Linked DNA regions of Homo sapiens: regions 1, 2 and 3 are each reported to be linked to region 4. The links are microRNA targets in miRTarBase. Many come from high-throughput screens and were not tested one by one. Region 4 holds a microRNA gene; each other region holds the end of a gene's coding sequence. Distances are between the middles of the regions.

Evidence for each region. The annotated mature microRNA hsa-miR-632 reads GUGUCUGCUUCCUGUGGGA and lies in region 4 at 3,682-3,700, opposite strand. An mRNA with a match to its seed (bases 2 to 7 or 8) in the 3' UTR can be bound and repressed. Matches are read on the target gene's strand: a 7mer-m8 pairs with bases 2 to 8, a 7mer-A1 pairs with bases 2 to 7 and ends in A, and an 8mer does both.
Region 1: miRTarBase lists IFNGR2 as a target of hsa-miR-632. Seed matches in the 3' UTR shown: 7mer-m8 at 3,582-3,588.
Region 2: miRTarBase lists FAIM2 as a target of hsa-miR-632. Seed matches in the 3' UTR shown: 7mer-A1 at 6,597-6,603.
Region 3: the mRNA of DERL2 is a reported target of hsa-miR-632. Seed matches in the 3' UTR shown: 7mer-A1 at 6,050-6,056.

What each region holds. Positions count from the first base shown.
Region 1 is chr21:33,436,675-33,440,674 of GRCh38, reverse strand. It overlaps IFNGR2 (interferon gamma receptor 2), which reads right to left. Exons shown (of 7, transcript NM_005534.4): 7 at 3,159-3,847. The coding sequence ends at 3,713. It also overlaps a transcript of TMEM50B not described here. Among named protein-coding and RNA genes, the nearest start is that of IFNGR2, 35 kb to the right of the region's middle.
Region 2 is chr12:49,867,216-49,875,041 of GRCh38, reverse strand. FAIM2 (Fas apoptotic inhibitory molecule 2) reads left to right here. Exons shown (of 12, transcript NM_012306.4): 12 at 4,389-7,826. The coding sequence ends at 4,538. Among named protein-coding and RNA genes, the nearest start is that of BCDIN3D, 28 kb to the right of the region's middle.
Region 3 is chr17:5,467,969-5,476,369 of GRCh38, forward strand. DERL2 (derlin 2) reads right to left here. Exons shown (of 7, transcript NM_016041.5): 7 at 3,286-6,821. The coding sequence ends at 6,716. DHX33 (DEAH-box helicase 33) reads right to left here and starts at 1,014. Exons shown (of 12, transcript NM_020162.4): 1 at 603-1,014. The coding sequence starts at 891. It overlaps DHX33-DT (DHX33 divergent transcript), which reads left to right and starts at 1,124. Exons shown (of 3, transcript NR_135644.1): 1 at 1,124-1,171; 2 at 1,946-2,026; 3 at 2,124-2,392. RefSeq lists enhancers at 66-648, 438-657, 1,038-1,107.
Region 4 is chr17:32,345,468-32,353,868 of GRCh38, reverse strand. It overlaps MIR632 (microRNA 632), which reads right to left and starts at 3,760; the gene lies at 3,667-3,760. ZNF207 (zinc finger protein 207) reads right to left here and starts at 3,712. Exons shown (of 12, transcript NM_001098507.2): 1 at 3,543-3,712; 2 at 1,957-2,083. The coding sequence starts at 3,583. It also overlaps a transcript of C17orf75 not described here. RefSeq lists enhancers at 946-1,455, 3,623-3,972, 4,143-4,262 and a silencer at 7,271-7,452.

The sequences.
Region 1 (4,000 bases), not on the chromosome of region 4:
CCTGACCTCATGATCCCTCCTGCCTCAGCCTCCCAAAGTTCTGGGATTACAAGCGTGAGCCCCCGCACCCGGCCTATTTTATTATTATTTTTGAGACAGAGTCTCGCTCTGTCACCAGGCATGCAGTGGCACGATCTCTGCTCACTGCAACCTCTGCATCCCAGGTTCAAGCAATTCCCTTCGCTCAGCCTCCTGAGTAGCTGGGATTACAGGCATGCACCACCATGCCCAGCTAATTTTTGTATTTTTAGTAGAGACGGTGTTTCACCATGTTGGTCAGGCTGGTCTCAAACTCCTGGCCTCAAATGATCCGCCCACCTCAGCCTCCCAAAGTGCTGGGATTACAGGTGTGAACCACTACACGCAGCTTACCTTCTGGGTTCTAATAAATATTTATGAACAGTGAAATTTGAATATCATAGAATTTTCATGTGTGATGAAATATTCTTCTTTTGACTTTAACTATTCCAAGATGTAAAAGCTATTCTTAGCACACGGGTTTTACAAAAACAGGGAATGGGCTGATTTGGCAAGTAGGTTATGGATTATGCCCTGTCAACGGATTATTTATAAGAGTGCTTCCAACTCAAAAATTTTGACAATGTACTTAGCTTGACTTTATTTTTCTTGAGACAGAGTCTTGCTCTGTTGCCCAGGCTGGAGTGCAGAGGTGCCATGTCAGCTCACTGCAACCTCCGCTTCTCGGGCTCAAGTGATTCTCCTGCCTCAGCTTCCCAAGTAGCTGGGATTACAGGTGTGAGCCACCACGCCCAGCTAATTTTTGTATTTTTAATAGAAACAGGTTTTCGCCATGTTGACCAGGCTTGTCTCAAACTCCTGACCTCATGATCCACCCACCTCAGGGTCTCAAAGTGCTCGGATTACAGGTGTGAGCCACTGCGCCTGGCCTTGACAGTGTAAATACTAATCCCATCAATTAGTCATTTATTTTACTAAGGAGAATGAGGCATTTCATTTCAGAAAATACTATTTAAGGCTGGGCACAGTGGCTCACACCTGTAATCCCAGCACTTTGGGAGGCTGAGGTGAGCGGATCACCTGAGGTCAGGAGTTTGAGACCAGCCTGACCAACATAGTGAAACCCCATCTCTACTAAAAATACAAAAATTAGCTGGGTGTGGTGGCGCACATCTGTAATCCCAGCTACTCTGGAGGCTGAGGCACAAAAATCGCTTGAACCCGGAAGGCAGAGGTTGCAGTGAAGTGAGATTGTGCCACTGCGCTCCAGCCTGGGCAACAGGGTGAGACTGTGTCTCTAAATAAATAAATGGGGTGGCACAGATGCACTTACCCTAACAGAGTTGATTTGCCCTCTGTCCTGCTGGGCTGAAACTCTTTCCTGTTCTCCTGCTATAGATGTATCCTCCACTCCTCGCTGGCCACCATCCTGCTGCCCAACAGAAGAAGCTCTTCTGTCTCCGATTTCCTGAACGGTCTAAGGTAAGTCTTTACAACTCCTATCTACAACTTCTTCCTCCAAACTTGTCTACTTAAGGTGCACCTAATGCATACAACAGATGCTTCACAGGGAGACTTGTGTGCATGGGGTGGGAGTGGGCCTTGTTTTTCTAACTCTTGCCACTGCAGACAGCATGGTACACAACACTTAAGAGAGTTAGCCACTTTTGCCGGACACGGTGGCTCACGCCTGTGATCTCAACCCTTTGGGAGACCAAGGTGGGTGGATCATGAGGTCAGGAGTTCGAGACCAGCCTGGCCAACATGGTGAAACCCCATCTCTACTAAAAATACAAAAATTAGCCAGGCATAGTGGTGCACGCCTGTAATCCCAGCTATTCGGGAGGCTGAGGCAGGAGAATTGCTTGAACCTGGGAGGTGGAGGTTGCAGCGAGCTGAGATCGCGCCACTGCGCTCCAGCCTGGGCGACAGAGTGAGACTCTGTCTCAAAAGAAAAAAAAAAAGCCACTTTCTTACCAGCAGTACAGGGCCCCAACTGCCTCCCATGTAGCTGGGATTATAGGTGCCTGCCACCACACTCAGCTAATTTTTGTGCTTTTAGTGGAGACAGGCTTTCACCATGTTGGCCAGGCTGGTCTCGAACTCCTGACCTCAGGTGATCTGCCTGCCTCGGCCTCCCAAAGTGCTGGGATTACAGGTGTGAGCCACCGTGCCCAGCCTATAAATGGATTTTAAATACATATCCTTTGAACAACAGAGCCCGACAGTACTGACACAATCAGATGACTTGCGTGCTCAGTAGATAACATTACTATTGATTAATCAGTTAATTCTCTTTATTGCCCACAAATCCCTGCCTTGGTCAACACAGTGTGACTTGTCACATATAAATGAAGTGCTAATGTGCCTTCTGCAAATCCCCCTTATAACTTTTATATTTTTGAGACAGGGTCTCTTGCTCTGTTGCCAAGGCTGGAATGTAGTGGTGTAATCATTGCTCACTGCAGCCTTGAACTCCTAACTCCTAGGCTCAAATGATCCTCTGGTCTCAGCCTCCTGAGTAGCTGGGACTACGGGTGTGCACCACCACGACTAGCTAATTTTTTATTTTTTGTGAAAACAAGGTCTCACTATGTTGCCCAGGCTGTTCTCAAACTCCTGGCCTCAAGCGATCCTCCCATCTTGACCTCCCAAAGTGCTGGGATTACAGGCATGAGCCACCATGCCCAGCCCTCTTTTTTTTTTTTTTTTTGAGATAGGGTCTCGCTCTGCCTCCCACGCTGGAGTGCAGTGGCATCATTTCGGCTCATGGTAACCTCCGCCTCCCAGGCTAAAGCATCCTCCCACTTTAGCCTCTCAAGTAGCTGGGACTACAGGTGCATGTCATCATGCCTGGATAATTTTTGCATTTTTCATAGAGACAGGGTTTCACCATGTTGCCCAGGTGGGTCTAGAACTCCTGGCCTCAAGTGATCCACCCACCTCAGCCTCCCAAAGTGCTGGGATTATAGGCGTGGGCCACTGCACTAGGCCCTGGCCTTCTTTATAACCTTTGGAGGATCAAGTGACATCCATAGGAAGTGTTTGCTGAGTTCCCATGAGGCCTCAGTAGCTCTAGCAGGTGTTATTTAAGAAAAAACAAGTTTAGATTGAGTAATTTTAGAAAGCTGAAACTCTGCAGAAAATAGGCTACAATAAAGAAAACACTTCACATAGACTTTAAAAAACATGCACTATACAATCTTTTATTTCCAGTTTAAAAACAAAATCTTAAATTACTAGGAGTATATTTACAAGATTAATTACATTTTAAGCCAGCACACCATGGATGTACATGAAGGGCCACTCGGTGTCCCTCGCTGGGACAGGTTGTGTGACCTGCCCAAGGGGCTCCGGCTCATTTGCCAAAGTCAAGACGACGACCAGGTCTTCTGACTGCTCAGCCCAACCAATAATGAAAAAAGTATCAGAGATGTGTCATATCCATTTTGCTAACAAGCAATTACATGCCTTTTTAGTGTTTAAGAGAAGCCTTAATTTTCCTGGGATATCTCCGTAAAATCATTCTGGAATTTGATTTTGAAAATTCTTTAAGAAAAAAAAAAAAAGCTTGTCACCCCCATGAGACCTGCTGTCTCTCATGTCTGCAGGGACAGGCCTTTTAGAGGCAGCAAAAGGGAATACTGGTCTCTGGAAAGTCCAGACAGAACTCTAGCAGCTCCGATGGCTTGATCTCTTCCAGGGAGCCAGTGGGCTAGGCCCATGCTTTGGTTCAAAGCGTTTGGAGAACATCTTCTTGCTCCTTTTCCGGAAACGAGATAATGGACACAGAGTCCCAGACGTCATCCTTTGGTGAGCTGTCCTTGTCCAAGGCCTCTAAGATGGGCTGAGTTGGGTCTTTTAAATACTTGAGGAGGTTGGAAAGCAAAATTGTAATTAGTTTACCAGTTCAGTATACCAGACCTTTTAACTTTAGTTTTTGTTTTTATTTTATTTTTATTTTTATTTTTTTTTTGAGATGGAGTCTTACTCTTGCCTAGGCTGGAGTATAGTGGTGTGA
Region 2 (7,826 bases), not on the chromosome of region 4:
AATTATCTCTCCTTCCAGACCTTTCTTTATGCATTTCATAGATATTTGCTATGTGCGCTCCTCTGACGTGTATAGTTTTATGGGATCATACGATATAGATTTTTCACAACTTGCTTTTTTCTCACAGTAGCGTCTGTCACAGATGTTTCCACCTCAGCACTGCTGCCCAGAGTTTATTTAACCACCCCCGTGTTGGTAGAGTTTGGGTTGTTTCAGCATCTCACTGTTAGAACCAATGCTGTAAACAACAGCCTGGGGGTTGCCTCCACACGCCCTCACACTGGCATTTATGCAGGACAGACACAGTCCACGTGGCACTGTTTATGCTGATACAACACATTGCAACCCCAGCTTTTTGTATTCAGTGCCTGCCTGCGGGTGGCTCTGAGCTGGCCTTTCCATGGCATGCACTGCCCAGAGCCCCTCAGCGTCACCTCTGGGGCCACATTCAGGGAGGACAACGGACATAAGCCTGGGCCCCAGATATGGCAGGGTCAGGCCAAATGTGTGGCTGGGGTCCCCGGCCAGGTTTAGCACTGGCCAGTAAAGTGAGGCGGGGAAGTTTGCCTTTGGCACCTGTGCCCTCTGCACATGCTCCCTCCCTCCCTGCAAGCCCACTCCTCCCCTATCTCCACCAGCATAGGAGACGGCACTCGATAAGCAGCCATCAGCAAGTCACTCAGCTCTCAGACTCCTTTCCTCATGTAAGACCATGAGGACGCCCACCTCCCAGGGCAAATGGGGAGAGGGAGATGAGATCAAGTGTTGGTCTGGGGAAGGACTCTTCAGATGTAAGTTAATAGCGTCCTTGTCCCAGGGGGCCTCCTGCCCCATCCCATGTGCTCCTCCTGCAGAGTCTCCTGTTCAGCTGAACACTAACTCAAGTACCTGCCCTCCTTTTAGGGGTTTGCAGTCAATTCGGTTGCTAGCTCTCAGCCAAGATCCTAGCTACCCACTAAGATGTTAACTATAACCAAGATACCTGCTCTCAACCAAGACATTAGTTAACAATGCTTTCCATCTCCAAGGAGATAGCAGCAGATGACTTTCCCCTGTAAATCAATGCACTGCCATGCAGAATCTCTGATCATGTCTTTTGCCCTCATTAGACTGTCAGTTCTATGAGGGCAAGTTCTCTGGAATATAGTAGGTGCTCAGCAAATATTGTTGGGAATAAATCGATGAAAAGACTTTGTTTGACTCACAGGCATCAGGTGGCAGTGATGGGTCATACTGGTCAGTGGGGTTGAAATTTGAAGCAGGCCATCCCAGAGAACACCACATAGATAAGCATCTGTGGCTATGGACCAAGGGCTGGGGCAGAAATCATTTCATTCCTCTTCTCTCCAAGAGAAAAGCCAGCTGGCTGCTCTAGGGGGTCTCCTGCGTGGGTGCTTCTCAGAAGGGCCACCCCCAGAGCTGGACAGATCCAAGCCTTCCAAGTTAAGAGACTCCATTTCATTAGCTCACCCAGGGGTGACCAGGCTCTGGGAAACCAACCAAGCAAGCTACTGATTGAACAGCCAGATCAGCAGTTTATGAACTGATGCTGGCAGCTGTGACTGCCAAGTGGCCCAAAGCATTTGCACTGGGCCTTCTGCTTGCTCATTCTCTCTGCAGAAGGAAAATGTGCTTGGGAATCCAAATCAAACACAGAAGGAGCAGAGCGGAATGGAGAGAAATCATACTCAAAAATACAAATAGTGGATGCCACATACACTGTCATAAATCTACCCTCAAAACCACACCGTGGTGTGGGCATTGCTACTATCCCACTTTGTAGATGAGGACACTGAGGTCAAGTGGATGACTTGGCTACTGAGCAATGGAGCCGGGTCTCAAACCCAGGCATTTCAACTCCTGTTCCTGTCTGGAGTGCCCTTCCCTCAGTGCCACTGAGCTCAGGAGACTGACGCACCCCGTGCAGGGCTCCTCTCAGCCCTGGCCATGGCTCCCCATTTTCGCTGTGTTAAGGCCACTCAGCTCCCCAAGGAACAGTGCTGCCTCCCTGATGAGATGCAAGAGACACCTGAGTCTCATCAGTAGCACGTGCATGTCCTCAAGAGGGCACCTCTCCTTCTGCAGATAATAACAATGAAACCACATTAATATAATAGCAAGCATTCATTAAGTGCTTACTATGTGTCAGGCACCACGCCAGGCCCCTTGCATGCATTATCTCATTCTCACAACAACCTCAGGAGGCAGGCACGCTCATCTCCCTTTTACACATAGGGACTCACAGGCCTAGAGAGATTAAATGCTCTGCCCAGGTCCTACAGCTAATGAGTGGTAGAGCAGAGCCTGCAGTCCAAGTGGATCTGACTTTCAAGCCTGTGCTCATAATTGCCCCCACCTCCTCACCTTTGACGGTGGCCCTGCCTCAATGTCCCATGTGCTGGAATTGCTCCCTGTTGGAGCCCTGGCCTCTTGGGCCTGCCGGGGGGAGCATTGCACCAGGGCTGGGATTCGACTAGGATTCTACAGGGCTGCGTCTATAGCAACTCTAAAGTCTGGGTCTTGGGAGACAAGGAGTCCATGGCGGAGGTGAAGGAAAGGGAACTGGGCATGACCCCTGTCTACCAAGCAGAGTGCAAGCTGCAAGGGCAAGCCCCAATCCCTTCCTCCTCTATCCACTTCTCCCATAGTTCCTGCCTCACCGAGTTCCCCACTCTTCACACAACACCAGTCAGGCCTCCCAGGCTTCCCTAGGCCTTCCCAGCTAGCAAACTCCTACTTAAGCCTCAGGTGAAATGCCACCTCTCCTGGGTCACCTTCCTCTGGCCCAATTAGTAGCTCCTTCCTTCATAGTCCTAATTGTGCATTTCCTGGGTTTTCTTGTAATGACCTATAAGTGTCCCCCATGACGCTGCGAGCTTCCCCAAGGCAGGCACGGCTTTGTGTTTCTCGTCTCTTTTGCTCTTAGCAAGTCCCTGTCATGCAGCTGTTGCCCCATACATATTTATTGTATGATGAATGAGTTTCAGAGGACCCAGGGAACATGCCTTTCATACACAAGTGACTGAAGAGCCCAGTTAACAAGAATGTGAATCAATGTAAAAGAATTCTAATCCCGGGCTGGGCCTGGTGGCTCATGCCTGTAACCCCAGCACTTTGAGAGGCCGAGGCGGGCAGATCACCTGAGGTTGGGAGTTCAGGACCAGCCTGACCAACATGGAGAAAACCCGTCTCTGCTAAAAATACAAAATTAGCTGGGTGTGGTGGCACATGCCTGTAATCCTAGCTCCTCGGGAGGCTGAGGCAGGAGAATCGCTTGAGCCTGGGAGGTGGAGGTTGCAGTGAGCTGAGATCACGCCATTGCACTCCGACCTGGGCAACAAGAGCGAAACTCTGTCTCAAAAAAAAAAAAAAGAAAAGAAAAGAAAAGAAAAAAAATTCCAATCCCACGTGGATCAGTGCTTCATCACCTTTGAGATACTGGTGGACTTTTTGGCCTCTTTCTCCAGAAAAGCGCACCACGCCTGCCAAATTTCATATGCTACTTAAGGGTTCTGCTCTTTAGGCTTGGAGCCCAGAGGAAAGCTACATGGCAAAGGGTAGGAGCCACTGTATACAGTGGGCAGGCCTGGCAGGGGCAGGGGGGTGACACAGCGCTGTCTCAGAGGGAATCTGTTCCTAGTCCATTAGGCCAAGCAGGGCCCCAGGGAAGAGCCTGTTTCCTGGGAGGAAAGGCATTAACCCCGGGTGCTGTTAGCAGCAGGGCAGAATGTTTACACCTGGGGCTCCGAAGCCGGCCTGCTCAGGTTGAAATCTTGGCTTTGCCACTTTCCAGCTGTGTAACCTTTAGCTAATATTTAAGGTCTCTGGGCCTCGCTTCCTGTAGGAAGAATCGGATTCTTATTTGATGGGGATGTCGGTAGCACTGATGGGCTGTCAGTACAGCACAAGTGCCCGGGCCCTGCTTGTACCTGAAGCGTTTGCCTTCCTCTGAGAGCAGGGTCCGGAGGGAATGGCAAGAAGACTAGGCCTCAGCTTGAAGGTCCCCTCTCCCAGGAAGCCTTCCCTAACTTCCTGCCACACTCACATAGGTGAGGCTCCTTGTTATCAGCCCCACTGCTGCCTGGAACCTTGTTATACTCATCATCCTAACAATTACTTCCTCTAGACTCTAAGCTCTGTGAGGACAGGGATCCCGGCTGTCTTGTTCTCTGCTGTATCCCTGTGCCTAGCACATAGCAGGTGCTCAGTAAATAGCTGCTGAATAGAATTAGGGACAGAAGGTGTCACAGGAGGGCCACTGGGTAGTCAGGCAGCTGGTGAGGGTAATAAAATTGGGGGTGGGGCTGAGGGGGACACCTGGGCTGCCATAGTCAGTGTCACACTGCCTGGGCCTCTGACCTCTCTCTCTCTCTCCTCACTTCTCCCAGTTCCTGGCACTTGACACCCAGTTGCTGATGGGTAACCGACGCCACTCGCTGAGCCCTGAGGAGTATATTTTTGGAGCCCTCAACATTTACCTAGACATCATCTATATCTTCACCTTCTTCCTGCAGCTTTTTGGCACTAACCGAGAATGAGGAGCCCTCCCTGCCCCACCGTCCTCCAGAGAATGCGCCCCTCCTGGTTCCCTGTCCCTCCCCTGCGCTCCTGCGAGACCAGATATAAAACTAGCTGCCAACCCAGCCTGTGGCCAGGTCACTGTCTACCCCAGCCCAGCCCAGCCCTCTGCCGCTTGTACATACGCCATGGGGACCCTGAGGAACTGAGGCCACGTCAATCCCTGTGCCGCCCCATTCGCCCGTTACATCTTCCAAACTGGGACGGTCAAGGCTGAAGGCTCCTCTGGGTTTGAGGGTCCAAGGGACAAGGAGGAGAAGCCTAGCAGGATTTCAGATGCAGGAGAGAGACCCAGGAAGCCCGGCAGAGCCCTGAGCCCCACTGCAATTCCTCCTAGGGCTGCACAATCATGTGGCCTTAGGGCACACTGTCCTGCATCCAGTCTGTGTCCTCCTGTCTTTCTCATCCAGGTCAGGCATTGACACTTTGTAAGAAAGGGGGTAGGGGACACAGCTGGGCAGGTGGAGTGGGTGGGCAGGATGGCTGTCCCAGTCTGCCCATCTTCTCTTGGCTCTGGGACCAGCGGCTTGTTCTAGGGATTTGGACCTGGAGGCCAAGGGCAATAGGAGAGGGTCTGAAGCCTGTGCTGTCTGCTGCTTGCTGTGAATGGCCCTCCCGGGTCATGACAGAGCTCTTTTGGGGCAGGAGGTGAGGGCAGGGGGCCCCGCTCCTTGGTAAGGGCCTGCCCTGGGGCTCCCAGGGAAGTGGGAGCTGGGGAGCCAATCCACCCAGACCCGCGTCCACCTGGGAGGCATTTGGGGTTGCAGGACCGAGACCCACATCCTCTCACTCACTTCTCCACCCGCCAGGCAGCTGCCACAGGCCTAAGGCTGAGTGAGGTGTGATTGGGCCCTCCGGCTGGATGTTCTGGGGGAGGAGGCAATCGCTGTAGCTGCCAGGCCAGCCCCATCTGGAAGGAGTCCCTGCTCTGCCTCAGCCCTAACCCGAGGCTGTGTGGGAGTCCCTTCTGCACCTCTTATTTCCTAAACCCTTCCTGTCAGCTGCTGTTTGCTGGCTCGTCCCCAGCCAGGCCTCCTGAGGTCTTCATAGTTGGCACAGTCCACATCTCTTCTAGCTTCACTGGCCACTCACTCAGCCCAGAGTCCCTAAGTGCTCCCCCACTTATCTCTGCATCTCTCCAATTTGGAAGCCATCCAGCTGATGCTAACAGCCAGGGCCAGTCCCTCCAGCTGGTCCCATGTAATGAGGCCAGGGCTCCTTATCAGCTTCCAGGCGGCTGGGATCTCAGGCAGGGTGTGCGTCAGCCCTCCAACCCCCAGAGGGGCGCCTGTGGGGAGGGAACCAGGAGGCCACACTGGGGGAGCGTGCAGCCAGCATGTGCAGTGGCCAACTCCAGGCCAGTGGAAAGTTACTGTGTGGATACAGGAAGGCTCTGAGTGGCTAGCAGGACCCTCCCTTGGCTTCGCCCTCCTCCTCTTCTCTCTCCCCTGTGCTGGGAGCTCCGTCTGCCTTGGGAAGGGAGACGAGGTGTGCTGTTCCTTCCCAGCCCCATCCCTCCCCACCCTTCCTACTCCCAGCTTTCAAGAAACATTGCAGAAGCATTTGAAGTTTTGTTCCATCTTGGATATTTGAAGAGAAAAGGAGCCAAGAACTGGCGGGTGGTGTGTGTGCAGCAAAGGCATTGGGGGCACGGGTGAGATGCCCACTGTGTGCTGGTCTAAATTAATCCATCGCAGTGATCCTCCAGAGACAGCGCTCTGCTCATGTCCGTAGCAGAGGGAAAAGCCGAGGTGCTCAGAAAGGCTCGGTAATGAGTCCCAGGTCATACGGCTAGCGAGTGGCGGGCCTGGGGTTCAGACCCACAGCTGCCTCAAGCAAACAGGGTATCACGCTTGCCCCTGGGCCTGGGTGGGGGCCGGAATGAGACCACATGAGAGCGCAGAGAGGTGGGTGGTCAGGCCCTGATGTCCTGGGGATTTCTTGTCCTCAGTGCCACCCGGCCTCCCGTCTTTCCTGAAACCCCTCGCCAGATTTTGCACTCTGAGGTTTCTATCTTCCAGACAAGAGCTGGGAGGCAAGATTTCTGGTTTCTGGTTCCTAGCCTCACTGCCAGCGGGCTCCTGCTATTAGGTGAGGGTTTCTTGCTGTCTGGAATTCAGTTTTTCCATCTGCCACATGGAAGTTCATAGCCAGGATAGGGCGGGAGAGGCACCAGAACATTTCTCTCCACTGACTTTCTCACCCGGTTCCCACCCTCCTCCACCTCCTCTCCTCCGGGCCCCTCAGTTTCCTCTCCTCATCTCTGGCCTCAGTTCCAGAGGGTTAGCCCCAGCACCCCACTCTCCTGCCACTGTCAGATAGCCTTGGTCATGCTTCCTAGAATCTACTTGTCCAAGTTCTCCTCTCCCTGGGATAAGTTACTGCAGAAACTGGGGATTTAGAAGCTTATTCAGGGCTGAGTGCCAAAAGCTTGGGGGAGGAGGGACAGGTCCTCGGCAATAAACAGTGTCACACACGCATCACAGCCATTTGAGAAATGGCTTCTTTGCAGAGCTGGGGAAGCCGGGCAGAAGATGCCGCAGCCTCCTACTCTGGGTCCTGAGGGGGGGTGGCAGGTACCACAGTGTAGGCAGCAGGGTCAGGGCCAAAGTCTATGCGTTCCATCTCCAATCCAGGCAGTGAGGAATCCTGAAACACCAGGAGAGGCGTCAGAAGTAGGAAGGGCAGGGGAACAGGAATGCAAGATTAAGGAAACCGCAGCTGAGCAGGTGTCACAAGCTGTAAAGGAGGAAGGGAGTCTGCAGGCCCTTCACATTTTTGGCCTGGGTGGGGCTGGGCCCAGGAAGGGGTGGGCTGGATTTTGTAAAGCTGGAGGCAGCCAGGAATCTGACTGTCCGGAATGTGAGTTGAGGGGTCTCCCACTGAAGTCCTCTTCTGGAAGCTGCAGATGGGGGCCCGGGAGGCACACACGAGTCTGGGACTCATTCCCGGGCACACCTATGGCTCCTTCGGTATCACCTGGGGAAGCCCCGGAATCTTAGTTCTTCCATTCCCTACTCTTCCTTCCGAGGGAGTCAGGATGGGACAGACACCCATTTTCCAAAAGGCTCCTTGCCTCCTTCCCTGGCCCACCTGAAGCCAAGTCCCAGGTGTCCTGGCTGCTCTCCTGGGCGGGGTGGGATTTTTGCATAAGCACTTTGCTGCCCTCCAGTGGCTGCTTGAGGAAACGCAGGGCCTGGTTTGGGAGAGTCACCGAGGGCCCATGTGGCTGGAGGTTGGGGGCAGGA
Region 3 (8,401 bases), 27 Mb from region 4:
CAGTATAACCGGACTTGACTGCTGCATCTGCTCACTCTCTATTCCTTTGACTAGCAGCACTCATGGGTCTCCTTCCTCTCTTTGGCTGCTCATCCTTTCCGTCCTTCAGTATCTCCTCTAACACGTTGGGGATCATAAGCCCCATGAAATCAGTCCCTGCCCCACAACTCTGCCTCTTTTCATGCACCAGAAACTACACCTTCCCTTTCGACCGGAATGTGTTCAGGTTCCCATCTCTCAAACGGGCTTTCCCCCCTGCCTAGAATGCCCTCCCTCCCACACGACCTCCCCAGCCGCCTCCTCACAAACCGGGTCAGATCCACTCTTCTAAGATCCGCAAGCCCCCGGTACGTTTCTCTACCCTTTTACGCGGAAGGTGAGTCTTTGCCTACACACGTTGGTCACTCTCACCGGGCTGTCCAGCGCCTCCAGGGCAGGGCTGCCGGACTCTTCTTCGAGGCCCCTCTCCAGGTCTGGCCCAGAAAAGGTATTCAGGTTTGTTGAAGCCACGAACGAAAGGGATTGAGAGGCATGTAAGAAAAACTGCTCTAGCTAAGCCACGGACGAAGTGCAAGGAAGAGCCCGCCGGCGCGGCCACTCACCGATGAGGACCGCGTTGTCCAGGTTTCGGAGCTGGGCCAACAGTTGCCCCCGCGCTTGGAAGATGGGCAGACTCCGGCGCTGCAGCTCCACAGCTTCAGGGTAGGGACTGGCCGAGGGCTGGGCCAGGGGCGGCTGCTGCCTCCGGCCTCCTCCTCCTCCTCTGCCGCCGCTGCCCGCAGTCAGCAGCATCACCACTTGCCTCCCGGGAGGGAAGGACCCAGCGCGGCTCGGAGGTCCAGAGCCTGGCCGGAATCTCTTGGCCGGCGGGAAGCCCGCCTCCTCCGGCATGTCGGGAGGGCACCGCGGCGGGAGGCGCAAGCGCCGAGAGCTCCTGCCCCCTCTCAGGTGCAGACAACAGGAGCACACCGCCCCTTCCTCGCCGCCACGTGCTGGCGGCTCCCGGCGACCACCGATGACCTCACGGCCGCCCCAGTCTTTAGAAAAAGGGACTGCATCTCCCAGCATGCCTTGGGGGCTTGGGAAGGCTTTCACTTCCTGGGGGTGGGAAAAGCAGGGCCTGAGGTACAACCAGGAAAAGGCCCGGAGCTACAACCGGGAAACACAGGATGTAAGGTTCCGTGGGACTGTAGTCTTGGTTAACGAGGTTTTTCTCATTGTTTTATTTTTTTTTTTTGAGATGGAGTTTCGCTCTTGTTGCCCAGGCTGGAGTGCAATGGCGCGATCTCGGCTCACACTGCAACCTCCGCCTCCTGGGTTCAAGCGATTCTCCTGCCTCAGCCTCCCAAGTAGCTGGGGTTACAGGCGTGCGCCACCGGGGCCCGTCTAATTTTGTATTTTTAGTAGAGACAGGGTTTCTCCATGTTGGTCAGGCTGGTCTTGAACTCCCGACCTCAGGTGATCCGCCTGCCTCGGCCTCCCAAAGTGCTGGGATTATAGGCGTGAGCCACCGCGCCCCGCCCATTGTTTTGTTCTAGTAGCATTACTTCTTTTCAGTAAACCCGCGTTTTCCCCTTCTCTGTCCAAATAACAGTCACTCTTCAAGGAAAGTACTTAATTCTGTAAAATCAATGAGAAGCGCAAACGTGCATTGTCTAATCCTCTAAACAACTTATAAGTTATGTGGTATATACTGGTTATTAGATTATCTCTAATTTACAGATTAAGAAATTGAGTCATCTTAGTCATTCAGATGTCCCCAAATCATAATTTTGTGATCATCTTGTGTTACAGAAAGGAAAACCAATTCTGATATACATGAATTTAACTCAGAAAATGACTCCTCCAACGGATGTGGTCGCCTCCAGTAATACAAGCAGAGAAAGGAGGGAGTTCAATGAAATTAAAATTGTCTTTTATCTTTCCTTTCCCCCAACCATTCCAGCCAGACTCTCAAGTTCTCTACATGGCTGTGCAACCCCATCACAGACACTTCAGTGAAGATTCAGAACTGCAGCAGAAAAAAGTAGGATTATAACTAGTTCTTCCTTACCCTCCTAAAAGTTCTTAGATGATTTGCTAATTTACCACGGAGAATGCCAAGTAGCTGTTTGCTCTTACAGGAAATGTGATTTCCAGAGAATACACCGTAAGCTTCAGCTCATGTGAAGGGTATCTTCTGAAGCTCGTTTCCATGAAACTCGCCCTGTTAAATATCTCCCTTCCCGTGATTCGTGAGAGAGCTAGTCTAAAAACAAAAAACCTCCCCTTTGCTCCAGGTCGGAGATAATTTTCCTCTAGTTGCTGACAGTTTGGTGACCAGGCATTACTGAAAATGTGCACGTTGAACCAGCAGCAGATTTGTGTTTAAGAATAAACTGACAAATTTTCACTTCCTACCCTGAAATATTTAGAAAGGCAACCCAAAACTACAAGGGATAATAAATGTTAACTCTCAAATTATGGACTTTGAGTAAAGACATCCCAGTCCTTTTTCCCAGTGTGCTTTCCAGAGTAACTTAAGGTAGGAGTCCGATGTTCCAAATGATTACAATAATTTAGGTAATGTAAATGGGTGGACTTATTTCTTGATGGAGCACATTCCACCTCTACATGCAGCCCCTAATCATTTCTAGGCAATGGCTGTCATGTAGACCTATTATTGCCAGATCTTCCAATTTTCTCAAGAAAAGCCAAAAGTGAAGATTTTTATCTGTCAATGTTAAATACAGGTTTAAACTTAAAAAAAAAAAAAGTACTGTCAAAACAAAGCACATAGGTAGGTAACAAATCTGTAGGTAACTCATCCATAATCTCTGGCCTAATGATCCAGCTATTCTATAGCCTCAAAGCTAAGAGGACCAAAGAGTGGAAAAATTAAGTCCTATATATGCATCAAGCCATGCTGCTCACATTTCTCCCATTGGTAGACTGAAATCTGCTGTTTCTCCTGAAGAAGTCTCTTGGGGTTCACCAGCTTTCATATGTAGATACTGACAAGCTAATAACTATTCAGAGAATATCCTGGTTCTTCCTTCAAACGACGAAGTGTCAGACACATTTCATTTTTAACTTGTCTGGGATGGTCTGTGGACTTAACTGGTCTGATCACGACCATAACAGCTGGTGGTCACCTTTGCTTTTCCGACCACCAAATTACTGCCCTTGATCATGTTCAGTTTCCCTCTATCCCACTTTCAGAGACAACCACAAGCTTCAGCAACTAGGCTCAAGCTTGCATGCATACACTTTAATCCCTCTATAATTAAAAATACCAGATAATACTTTGCTGATCAATAAACAAAGGTATTTATTCAGCACCCATGTGCCAAGCACTGTGCTAGGCACTGTGGTGGATACAAAAATTAAGACATGGTCCCTGCCCTTAAGGAGCTTACATTCTCATGAGGGAGACAAGACTAATATACATGTACCAGCTAGGAACAGTACAAGACAATATATAATTTGGCGTTAAGAATGTCATACAGACTTGAAGCTTTATAGGGATTCAGAGACAGACAATAAAATAGGCCTTAGAGTCAAGATTTTTTGAGGAATCAGGAACAAGGCCAGGCCTTGAAGAACTGAAGAGACTTAAGTTGAGGTCCCTGTTAGGTAGAAGTGGGAGTAAAGTTAAGAAAAAAACAAGTATGCATATAATGTAGGGGCTTACTAAGAAGTCACTGTGGATTTCTGAGCAGAGGAGTGACTTGATCATACAAGATTCAACAATTTTATTGCAAACTCATAAAATATGTTTAAGTAGCCTGGAGACATCCTACAGAACACAGAAAATAATGGCAGGATCATGACTAACAACATAGCTGGAACTCACCTGTCAAAGAAAAACAGCTACAACATAAAACACTGGCAGGATAGATGACAATAGTTCTAGGAAGCCCATTACTCAACATGGCAATAGCTCCAATGCTTCCTTATTTTCAGAGGCCCCAGAGACTGAGGGTTTCATTATCCAGACCCAGGACTTAGGTGTTCTGCTTCTAGAGACTACACAAGAGGTATGAAAGATATGAGGACATACAAGAGTGACACAGAAAAAACAAGAGGAAGAGAGAAACAAATAGAAATCCATACTGGAAAAAAACGCACCGAAATGTATATAAAATGTATCTCCTAAGGAGATGCAATTTGTATGTCCATTTATTTTTAAATGAACGTATACCGTATTTCCATAACAAACAAAAAACACTATGCTTTAGTCAAGTGTGCTTTTCAGTATCACTAGAAGAATCCAGGAATCCCTCAAATTATGTGTAAGGTTAGTTGGTTGGTCTCAAAATTCCATGTATCAAATCTCACTTTCAGTTTATTTGCATTGTGAAAGGGAAGTGTGTTCTGGAAGAACTAAGATTGAGAGGTAAATTGGGGAGAAAGTAAGGACTTTTCCTTATGTCCATTCAAGCACAGGTATCCTGTCAAGCAACACAGGGCTAGGAATGGTGGTTGTAGGGCTGGCCAAACTGATGAGAGGTGATTGAAATTACCACTGCTCAGGACACAGTGTAGTCAGTCACACAGCAGGGCATCCTGCCACTGGGAACTTGCACCCTATAAAATCGGAGAAATCAAAAACCCTGTAACTGCCTGCCTTTAGGCTGTATATTCAAAATGTATTTCCTGTTTTACCTAGTCATTAATGTATACAGATATTCCCTACTTAAATGAACAGTGAGTTAACAGATTTTAGGATTAGTATTTTACCACAAAAATGCCATTCATTGCATAACTCCAACTCAGGGAGAACAAATAAAACTAGAGAAACTCATTTCTAGCCCAAAAACAATTTAAAAAAAAAAAACAAAAAACAAAATTCTAACAAACGTCACTGATAAAGCGTTCTTGAGCAAAAACAAGATAGGATAAAACTTAAGAATCCCATAAGGATTATACATGCTAAGATTGGCTTTTAAACTTTGAAAACCTTTTTTAAACTGCTTAAAAAGCAGTCCCATAGACCCAGGTTCCATAAAATTGCAACAATCATATTCAAAGTTATTAGCAACATGTAAAATACTTAAATACCATTAGTTATGCAATTCCATTTAAAGACATTAAAACACTTTTCACTTCAAAAACAATCTGAAAATTCCTATTTAGGATGTCCATTATGTTTAAGCCTATGTCTATCTTTCTGAGGACAATGTCACATTCTGGAAAGCTACCCCTTAACAAAGGTTGAATGAACTACTACTAACAATCCACTTTTGGGAAAGGGACCTGTGCCTACATGCCGTTAATGAAAGCTGTTTGGAATCATCTCTTTCCTAGGGGTGCTCTTTCGACTCTTCCAGGTTCTGGAAGTTACTTAAGCAGTGTGAATGCAAACCTGCTGAGACTCAGGGAAGACTTAATATTTAGGGGAAGTATTTATTGAACCACAGCATTAAGTGTCTACTTCTGTGGACCCTGTCTAATTTCTACCTGATTGGGAAGGTAATCCAGGTACTTGGCTCTGAAAAGGTTCTTGAATTTTCACGAAGCAAATGACTAATGTTAACTAGCCAAAGACCCTGGAAGAACATATGCCTAGCTAACTGGTATCTGTTCGTCTGGCTCCAAAGTCAACATTCTAACTTGGTTTCCAAATCTAATGAAAATCTGAGACCCTGTCTCTATTTTTTTTTTTTAATTAAAAAAACAAAAAACAAAACAAAACAAAAAAGGCAAAAAAAAAAAAAATGGCTGGGCATGGTGGCTCATGCCTGTCATCCTAGCACTTTGGGAGGCTGAGGTGGGAGGATTGCTTGAGTCCAGGAGTTCAAGACCAGCCTGGGCAACACAGTGAGACCCCATCTGTATTTAAAAAAAAATTTTTAATTAAAACTTTTTTAAAAATAAAAGAAAAAAAAAGTCTAATGAAAATCTTCCTAGTTTTACAAAAATGTGGCCCTTACCAATCTTTCCCTGGATACTTCTTAATGGAGAAATGTAAGTAAAGCAAATAAGATGCCACATTAGCTTACAGCTGACTTTCCTATAGCTGAATTCCTACTGCTACAAGAACCATCCTCCCTCCTTTTTTTTCATGTTGTCTGACAAAGTTTGGCAAAACCCAGATGCAAAACAACCTATCCAGATGACAGAAATAAATCATCTTCCTGCTGAATCTTGCATTCTGAGTTAGTAAGATGTACACAACCACAGCATGACAGCCACGTATTTCCAATCCTGAAATGAAATCCAGTTAAAAGTTGTGAAGACACAGGAAGAACAGCTGTGTAAACTGTTCTGAGCTCAGATCTACGCAGGAGGGCTACAATACATTATCAGAATTTAAAAGATCACACACAAAAGCTTTAATACAGTGAGAGAAAAATGGAATTCCGTTTTATTTTGTCCTCTCTGAAACTTCCATTTACACCATGGCCTCATCTATCAAGAAGAGGAAGAAAAGGCTCTGCCTTATACCATAAAAATCAAGTACTCATGTACTTGTTAGAGGTGGCAGGATATTTGTTTCTCCAGTTTTTTGGCTCTAAGAAATTACACTTTCAGTACCAGTGTAGTGAGGAACCACTGGCAAACTGTTGGAAATGTCTTCTGGATTAGTCAGTGTACCATTTCATAAAGTGCTTCTGGAGTTAAAATCTGCCAAGCTGTCAAAAGTGTCCACACTTTTGCAACAAAGGATAAAAGATCCCAGTGGGTATCACCGAGTCCTTCCCAGCTGGGTCTCATTATTGGCACTGCTGCTTTAACCTCCAAGCCGCTGGCCCTCACCCCAGGCGAAGCCTCCTGGCCGTTCCTCAGGTAGTGGATTGTAATTTGGATCCTCATCTGGTGTATCAAAAATAGCTTTCCTAAAAGACAAGCAACAGATATAATTTGGTCCCAGAGTCATCTCAGGTCCAAAGTACTACAAGGTCAGTTCAGGCCCCATAGGGTTTCCACCAATAGGTAAGCATTACACCTGCCTGCCAATTAAACAGTTAACATATTGTAAGAGCATCTATAATTATTAACATTTACATTAGCTTTTATCTTTTACTGATTTTTACTACAAAAGCAATCCAAATCATAATAATTACAGAGAAGGAGGAAATAGAGATGAGCAAAATATCCTCAATTTCCAGAGGTAACTATTGTCAATGTTTTAGTTATTCTTTGGGAATTTTTACATTATGTCATTTTACAAAAGTTAGATCACACTACATGTTTTGTAACCTGACTTTCACATATTTATCATTAATGTTTCCCCATAACCAAGGTATCACCCAAGTGTGCATCAACAGGTGAATAAACAAAATACGGTACACACATATAATAGAATTTTTTTTTTTTTTTTTTGAGACGGGAGTCTCACTCTGTCGCCCAGGCTGGAGTGCCATGGTGCGATCTCGGCTCACTGCAACCTCCGCCTCCCGGATTCAAGCAATTCTCCTGCCTCAGCCTCCCGAGTAGCTGGGATTACAGGCGCCCGCCACCACGCCCGGCTGATTTTTGTATTTTTAGGAGGGAAGGTTTTCATCATGTTGGCCAGACTGGTCTCGAACTCCTGAACTCAGGTGATCTGCCTGCCTCGGCTTCCCAAAATGCTGGGATTACAGGCATGAGCCACTGCACCTAGTCAACATGGTGAAACCCTGTCTCCACCAAAAATACAAAAATTAGCCTGGCGTGGTGGCGCATGCCTGTAATCCCAGCTACTACTCAGGCGGCTGAGGCAGAAGAATCACTTGAACCTGGGAGGCACAGGTTACAGTGAGCTGAGACTGCTCCATTGCACTCCAGCCTGGGCGACAGAGCAAGACTGTCTCAAAAAAAAGGAAGGAAATTCAGGCACATGGTACAACATGGATGAACCTTGAGGACTTTACGCTAAATGAAATAAGAAATAAGCCAGACAAAAAAGGACAAATATTGTATGATTCCACTTAGGTACAGAGTAGTCAAATTCAGAGAAAGAAAATAGAATGGTGATGGCTGGGGTGGGGAGTTGTTTAATGAGTACAGAGTTGTAGTTCTGTAGGATGAAGAGAGTTCTATGGATGGTGGTGATGGCAGCAAAACAGTATGAATATACTTAATGCCACTGAACATTTAAAATGAGTTAAGATGGTGAATTTTATGTTAGGTATTATTTTACCACAAAATTTTTAAAAAATTAACAAGGTATCCCAAGAAAAATTACTGCAGAACATAGGAGGGGATAGTAAATGTCCAAAAGACTCCCTAAGTACTATGATGTAGTAATTCAAAACCTCACTAAAGAAGGAACCATTAAAGCAGCATCCTCAATTTGCACTTATATTTCTACTTGTAATCCTCCACAGTTGATAAAATTAGAAATGTATCTGAAAACTTCTGATTTATACTGGAGTCAGAAAATAGTATAATTCAAAATGAGTTTTTAAAATTCTTACAAATTAACAATAAAAAC
Region 4 (8,401 bases):
GTGAGTCTAACATGTAGTAGGTTCTCTAACAATTTTTTTTTTTTTTTTTTTTTTTTTGGAGACAGAGTCTCTGTCACCCAGGCTGGAGTGCAGTGGCACAAACTCAGCTCACCGCAAACTCTGCCTCCCGGGTTCAAGTGATTCTCCTGTCTCAGCACCCGCCTCGCGCCCCCCGCCCCCAGCCCTCCCCCCGCCCCCGTAGCCAGGACTACATGTGCCTGCCACCATGCCCAGCTAATTTTTGGTATTTGTAGAGATGGGGTTTCACCACGTTGGTCAGGCTGGTCTTGAAACCCTGACCTCAGGTGATCCACCAGCCTCGGCCTCCCAAAGTGCTGGGATTACAGGCGTGAGCCACCACATCTGGTCAACATTTTAAAATGAATATTAAATTATTGTTAAAGTATCTGGAGTGAAAAGGATCTATATAAATTTATCTTTAAACCTGGAGAAATCACGTCTCCCTACCTCCCACCCATAGTAGTTTCCAATGATTTGGTATTTGCTCATCTCATATTTCTGTAAGGTCTAATTTAGCAAAAATTCAGACAGCTCTAGGACTAAGCAAAGTAGAATAATGTTGAATGAGACATGAAGGTACTTACTAGATCTTAAAAAATATAAATTACAATGCTCTCGCTATTTATTAAAAGAACTTTAAAAACCTAGAAATTATTGTCATTATTATTATTATTGAGACAGAGTCTCACCCTGTTGCCCAGGCTGGAATGCAGTGGCACCATCTCAGCTCACTGCAACCTCTGCCTCCAGGGTTCAAATGATTCTCTTGCCTCAGCCTCCCCAGTAGCCAGGATTACAGGCCCATGCCACCACACCCGGCTAATTTTTGTATCTTTAGTAGAGATGGGGTTTCACCATGTTGGTCAGGCTGTCTTGAACTCCTGACCTTGTGATCCGCCCACCTTGGCCTCCCAAAGCGCTGGGATTACAGGCGTGAGCCACCGCGCCCAGCCGAAACCTAGAAATTATTAAATGAAATACAATTCTGGGCTGGCACAATGGCTCATGCCCATAATCCCAGGGCTTTGGGAGAACGAGGCAGGAAGACGGCTAGAACCCAGGAATATGAGGCTGCAGTGAGCCATAACCATGTCACTGCAATCCAGCCTGGGCCACAGAGCAAGGCCATCTCTTAAAAACAAAAGCAAAAAGTACAATGCTGCCATTCCAAAAGAAGTCCAATAAATAAATTGCTGAAATTAGCCTAGCCCCAAGCTACAGATAATAACAGATCCTTCAATGGCAGTGAGTAATGACTGCTAATTAAGTATTAATTCTTAAGGCCAGACCACCTACAAAATCTAAATCGCTGATCCTTGTTCTCTGCTCCAAGTACTCAGGAAATATTTAGTGATTTCGATATGTTACCAATCTAACCTAGTAAGGTACTATCAAACTAAATACAAATACAAACCCTCTTTAAACATAAAAAGCCAGTTTTGTTTATTGTCTTGATGGCTATCGAACAAATTTTTTGTTTTTTTTAATGCTGATTGGCTATCTTATCTTTTGCAGTAAGTAAGTGAACAAAAAAAAAACAAAACTACAGTTGTCAGAGAAATAAATGATTATTCTTTCGGCCAGGCGCGGTGGCTCACGCCTGTAATCCCAGCACTCTGGGAGGCCCAGGTGGGTGGATCACCTGAGGTCAGGAGTTCGAGACCAGCCTGGCCAACATGGTGAAACCCCAGTCTCTACTAAAAATACAAAAAATTAGCCGGGCATGGTGGCGGCTGCCTGTAGTCCCAACTACTCCGGAGGCTGAGGCAGAAGAATAGCTTGAACCCGAGAGGCAGAGGTTGCAGTGGGCCGAGATTGCACCACTGCACTCCAGCTTGGGCGACAAGACCGAAACTCAAAAAAATAAAAAAGATTATTCTTTCAAGTTGTTTCCAAATCACAAGCGGACAATAAATACAGAAGAAAAATCCTTACCTGCATGCAATGAATAGCTAAGCCAGGTCCTGTATACAATTTCTTGTGACATATATGGCATTTAAAATGCTTTGCTTTTTGGTGCTGAATAAGGATCTTCTCATCATCAAAATCTCTATTACAATACCTGATCAATACTGTTAAGGCACAAAGACAGCCTAATGATGACACTGCCTATAATAAAAACATATGGATAACATTACAATATGGGAACAGCTAAAACCAAAATGGTACTGTATAGAAACTCTGCTTTTTATATTTATTACACAATTAGGGACTACACTTGCCATGTTATTTCAGTATTTTCAATTTCCTAGAAGGCCAGCTCTCTTCACCACCCCAAAAAACACATCTCAATAATCAGCAATATACTTTGTCAAATTCCTGTGTTTAACAGAGATGTCGGTGAAACTTTTGTTATAAATATTTCAACATTTACAAATGCACACTGAGGACAGGAAAGAGTTCAGTTAAGAAATCCCTAAGGTTCTGTCAAGACAATTACTTCACTAGATATGAAGACGATAGCAATAACTGGATTAGGAATTTAGCAATATTTAGAATCTAAGAGTAACTATATGGTGAACAATAATCACATAATTTCGAATGAACAATCCATAAAGTTGTTTCCAATTCCGTATGAATTTATGTTGCCAAGCAATGTATTTAAATTCACAGATCAATAAAATCAATAAAGCAGAATTCTTACATCAATAAAACAGAATTCTTACCTCACTACTCAGATTTTCCTAAAATCACATTACAAAATTCGTAACCGTATTTAAGCTATTTTTAAAACTGTTACATAAACGCAGTACTGTAACAAGCCGCCTTTACGTACAAAACAGTAAATAAAATCAATTTTAATGTAAAGAATATTAACGCTTCCAGAAAAAGCATTAATACCACACTGTAGTAAGAGTTTTCCTAATAAGATAGGCACTTTTTAGTCCTACAAAGTTGGGTAACAGAAACTCCGCCCTGTGAGAACGCTTCCTGAAGATTAAGGCGCCTCTGGGTGAGACACGGAAGCTAGTTCTCCTCCCGCCCCGAAAAGAAAAAAAAAAAAAAAAAGGTTCGAAACCAGGGTTGACTAACTTGGTTCTTTACTAAACCGCCAATTCGAAAAAATAAACACAAAACACACATAAAGTAAATAAAAACAGAAAAAGTGGGTGACAGACTGTGAAGCTGTCCCCAACCCTCCATGAAAGTAATAAGCCTATCGCACTCGAAGAAAAGTCCCTTGTTGAATCGTCACCAAAACAACGGAAGGTGGCTGAATAGTCCCTAGGGGACACTGTCCCTGGCGGAGGGGTCCAGGCCGCCTCCCGGAGTCCAAAATTCGCACCGAACAAGATCCTCCTGAGTCACAGAGTCACACGACCCACAACTGCAAAAGCCTGTCGACCTCGGAACCCCATTTTCCTAGAAGCCTTCCCAAGTCCAATCCCAGCCACCAGGCCACCCACGCAGACGCCTAAATACAAACGCTCCACGCCGTAAGCCAAATCCAGGCCTCCTAGTCCCAGGCCCCAACAACCGGCACCCCAACGCGACCTCGACTTCAAACCGACAAAGGATACCAGCACCACGGCTTCAGCTGCTTCTTCTTCTTGCGACCCATAACTGTGTTCTACCGGCAAAGTAAAAGGGAGGAGAAAAGAAGCAGGAGAAACGAGGCCAAAAATCCCTCACTTTCCCAACCCAACGGCTACCACCACGTCCCACAGGAAGCAGACACAAAATGGCCGACGGCCTCGTTCCCCGCTCCGCCTCCCGTCAAGCACTGCGGTAGGAGGCGGAGCCAAGAAGGGGAGGGTCACATGACGCAGACCTCCGCCCTGAGTGGGTGGGACTAAGAGGCGCGAAGAGGTGGCAGCCATCTTGTCCGTTTCAGAGTTTTTCGCTTTCGCTGGCTGTGCTTGCGGAGCACTTTGGGTTTCATTTGTAAAGGAGCCGGAGCCCCAGGTACGCTAAGGGGCATGCGAATGGAAAACAGAAAACAAAAAAACGGAAAAGATTGCCAGTGCAGTTAGGGCCGATCACAAATAAAGATAGAGACAGCGCCCAATTTTAATTTTGTTTCAATTGAACAGTAAATGTTGATTATGTGCCTATTAAATGCTAAACCAAATAAGTTAGTCTCTGCTTTGTAACTCGCAGATTGGTGACAGACGAGTACACAATGCAGAGTTCTCAGTGCGGCGTTGAGGGAAATGCGAAGTGCTGTAGGACCTCAGAGAGCGGGAGTCCTAGGGCGGCTGTAGTGGTAGTGGTCGTTGGGTTGTCAAGTAAAGTTTTGTTTTTCTTTGTTTTGTTTTATTTTTCTGAGACCAAGTCTCGCTCTGTCTCCCAGGCTGGAGTGCAGCGGCGCGATCTCTGCTCACTGCAACCTCCGTCTCCCGGGTTCAAGCGATTCTCCTACCTCAGCCTCCCGAGTAGCTGGGACTGCAGGCCCGCGCCACCAAGCCCGGCTAATTTTTGTATTTTTAGTAGAATGGGGTTTCACCATGTTAGCGAGGCTGGTCTCGAACTCCTGGGCTCAAGTGATCCGCCCGCCTCGGCCTCCCAAAGTGCTGGATTGCAGGCTTGAGCCGCTGCGCCCGACATAAGAAAGGTTTCTTGAGGAGTCAACGGGAGCAAGCAAGGTGAAGGAAAGGGTATCTCCGTAAGGGAGCAAAGAGTTTAAGTCTTTGAGGCTGGGCACGTGAAAAACTAATCGTGGTAAGACTGGAGCTGATAGCCGGGCGCGGTTGCTCACGCCAGTAATCCCAACACTATGGGCCAAGGCCGAGGCAGGCGGATCACTTGAGGTCAGGAGTTCGAGACCAGCCTGGCCGACATGGTGAAACCCTGTCTCTACTAAAAATACAAAAATTAGCCAGGCGTAGTGGCAGGCGCCTGTAACCTCAGCTACTCGGGAGAATGAGGCAGGAGAATCACTTGGACCTGGGAGGTGAAGGTTGCAGTGAGCCGAGATCTCGCCATTGCATTCCAGCCTGGGTGACAGAGTGAGACTCCGTCTCAAAAAAAAAAAAAAAAGACTGGAGCTGTCAGTGAAGGTGCTGGTCACAAGAGATAATCCTAGGGAGGCTAGCAAAGGCGGGTTCTGGCGAACCCTAGAAGCATTCTCAGAAGTTGGATTTCAGCTGAAGTCTCTGAGAAGGCACAGTGGTTCTAAGAGGGCAACTGGAGGATCATGCAAGTGAGAGGTGGTTAAAAGTCCAGTGCTTGGGTTCATAGTCCACCAGTGCCACTGCTTAGCTGCCTGACTTTGGGCAAGGCAGTTAAACTTCATCTTGGCTGCACTTAAAACAGAGCTTAGCATATAATAATAACTAGTAATGTAAATTATGTTACTATTAAAAGCAAAAAATAATAGCAGACATCCATGGAGCACCTACCGTGTGCCAAGCATTGTAGTGAGTTTTAACATTATTTGTCTCAGCCTCTGGGGTAGGAGCCATTATTGTCAACTTGTTAATAGAGATGAGATAAAAGAGACTTAAGAGAGCTGGAATAATTTGCCCCAAAACACAAAGTATGTGTGGAGCTGAATTAAATTTGAATTTTAAAGGATCAGTTTGGGCTGTGCGCAGTGGCTCACACCTGTAATCCCAGCACTGTGGGAGGCTGAGGCGGGTGGATCACCTGAGATCAGGAGTTGAAGACCAGCCTGGCCAACATGGTGAAACCCGGTCTTTACTAAAAATACCAAAAAAAAATTAGCCAGGCGTGGTGGGGCACGCCTGTAATCCCAGCTACTCCGGAGGCTGAGGCAGGAGAATCGCTTGAACCCGGGAGGCGGAGGCTGCAGTGAGCCGAGATCACTCTGCTGCACTCCAGTCCGGGCGACAGAGCAAGACTCTGTCTCAAAAAGAAAAAAAAAAAAAAAGTTCAGGCTGGGTGCAGTTGCTCAAGCCTGTAATTGCCGTGCTTTGGGAGACTGAGGCAAGAGGGTGGCTTGAGGCCAGGAGTGTGAGACCAACCTGGGCACCATAGTGAGACCATCTCTATGAAAAAATAAATTGAAAAATGAAAAAGTTTAAAACCGTATTGCAATGTGCTGAATATCCCCCCAACTGCTTGAAACGTAATCACCAATGTGATAGCATTAAGAGTTGGGACCTTTAGCAGGTGATTAAATCATGAGTAAACTGGGTGGGGGGGGATTAGTGATTTTATTAAAGTGCTGGAAGGAACTAAACTCTACTCTCTCTTGCCTCAACCAAATGAGGATGCAGCAAGAATGCCCTCATCAGACACTGAGTATTAGTGCCTTGATCTTGGATTTCCAAATTTCCAGACTATAAGAAAATATAATTCAGTGGGTGTGGTGGTGGCTCACCCCTGTAATCCCAACACTTTGGGAGGCTGAGGTAGGTGGATCACCTGAGGTCAGGAGTTCGAGACCAGCCTGGCCAACATGATGAAACCCTGTCTCTACTAAAAAATACAAAAAAAATAGCTGAGTGTGGTGGCGGGCGCCTGTAATCCCAGCTACTCTGGAGGCTGAGGCAGGAGAATCACTTGAACCCAGGAGGCGGAGGTTGTAGTGAGCCGAGATTGCGCCATTGCACTCCAGCCTGTGCAATAAGAGTGAAACTCCATCTCGGGGGAAAAAAAAGAAAGAAAAGAAATAAAATTCTGGCCAGGTGTGGTGGCTCATGCCTGTAATCCCAGCACTTTGGGAGGCCGATGTGGGTTGATCACCTGAGATCAAGAGTTCGAGACCAGCCTTGCCAACATGGCAAAATCCTGTCTCTACTGAAAATACAAAAATTAGCTGGGCATTGTGGTGGGTGCCTGTCATCCCAGCTACTCAGGAGGCTGAGACAGTAGAACCCAGGCTGAGGCTTGAACCTGGCAGGTGGAGGTTGCAGTGAGCTGAGATTGTGCCACTGTACTCCAGCCTTGGTGTCAGAGTGAGACTCCAGCTCCAAAAAAAAAAAGAAAGAAAGAAATACAATTCTGTTATTCATAAATTCCCCAGTCTGTGGTGTTTGTTACAGCACCATAAACAGATTAAAACACTTTTACTATGAAAGCAATAAGCAATAAAATATTGCTGTTAGTTGGGAGGCTTAGGCAGGCGGATCACCTGAGGTCAAGAGATTGAGACCATCCTGGCCAACATGGTGAAACCCTGTCTCTGCTAAAAATACAAAAATTAGCTGGGCCTAGTGGCGTGTGCCTGTAGTTCCAGCTACTCGGGAGGCTGAGGCAGGAGAATCGCTTGAACCTGGGAGGCAGAGGTTGCAGTGAGCCGAGATCGTGCCACTGCACTCCAGCCTGGCAACAGAGCGAGACTGCGTCTCAAAAAAAAACAAAAAAAAATTGCTGTTAGAAATTAAAGAAGGCCTGGTGCGCTAGCCCATTCCTGTAATCCCAGTACCTTGGGAGGCTGAGGTGGGAGAATCACTTGAAGCCAGAAGTTTAAGGCGAGCCTGGGCAACAAAGCAATATCCTGTCTCTATGAAAAAATTAAAAATTAGCTGGGTTTCGGTGGCCCAGGCTGGTAGTGTGCAGTGGTGCAATCGTAGCACACTGCAGCCTTGATCTCCTGGGCTCAATGGATCCTCCCACCTCAGCCCACGGAGTAGCAGGGACTACAGGGCCATGCCACCATGCCTTGCTAATTTTTGTGTTTTTTGTAGAGGTAAGGTCTCGCTTTGTTGTCCAGGCTGGTCTTGAACTCCTGGGCTCAAGTGATCCTCCTGCCTTAGCTTCTAAGTGTTAAGATTAACAAGCGTGAGCCACCATGCTGTGCCTCTCGTTGTAGTGAGTTTATAGATAAGCAAGGGGAGGAGGCTAGAATGATCCATGCGGCCATGGATTAGAGCTGGAGACACCAGAATGAACTCGTGTTTATTTTAAAATAGATACATAGAGAAATATTTATGGATATGTGTATATACTAAAGTTAGTATAGATACATATATCAGCTGAGAGGGCCTAGAAGCAATAATGTCCCATATCAAGCATACTTTGTCCAGAGATCTTGGTTTGTAATACCATTCTCCAGTAAAAGCAACCTGAGGTCCTTGGAGAAATGGTTGATTCGGACCAGGCACGGTGGCTCATGCCTGTAATCCCAGCACTTTGGGAAGCCGAAGAGGGCAGATCACGAGGTCAGGAGTTCAAGACCAGCCTGACGAACATGGGGATTCTGCTGCCTCAGACTCCCGAGTAGCTGGGACTACAGGCATGCGCCACCACGCCCGCCTAATTCTTATATTTTTAGTAGAGACAGGGTTTCACCATGTTGGCCAGGGTGGTCTCAATCTCCTGACCTTGTGATCTGCCTGCCTCAGCCTTCCAAAGTGCTGGGATTACAGGTGTGAGCCACCGCGCCCGGCCAGGGGAATTCTTTTCAACCTAGAATTCGATGTCCAATCATATCAATCTAAAATTCTATTTCTTTTTTCCCCCCTGAGATGGA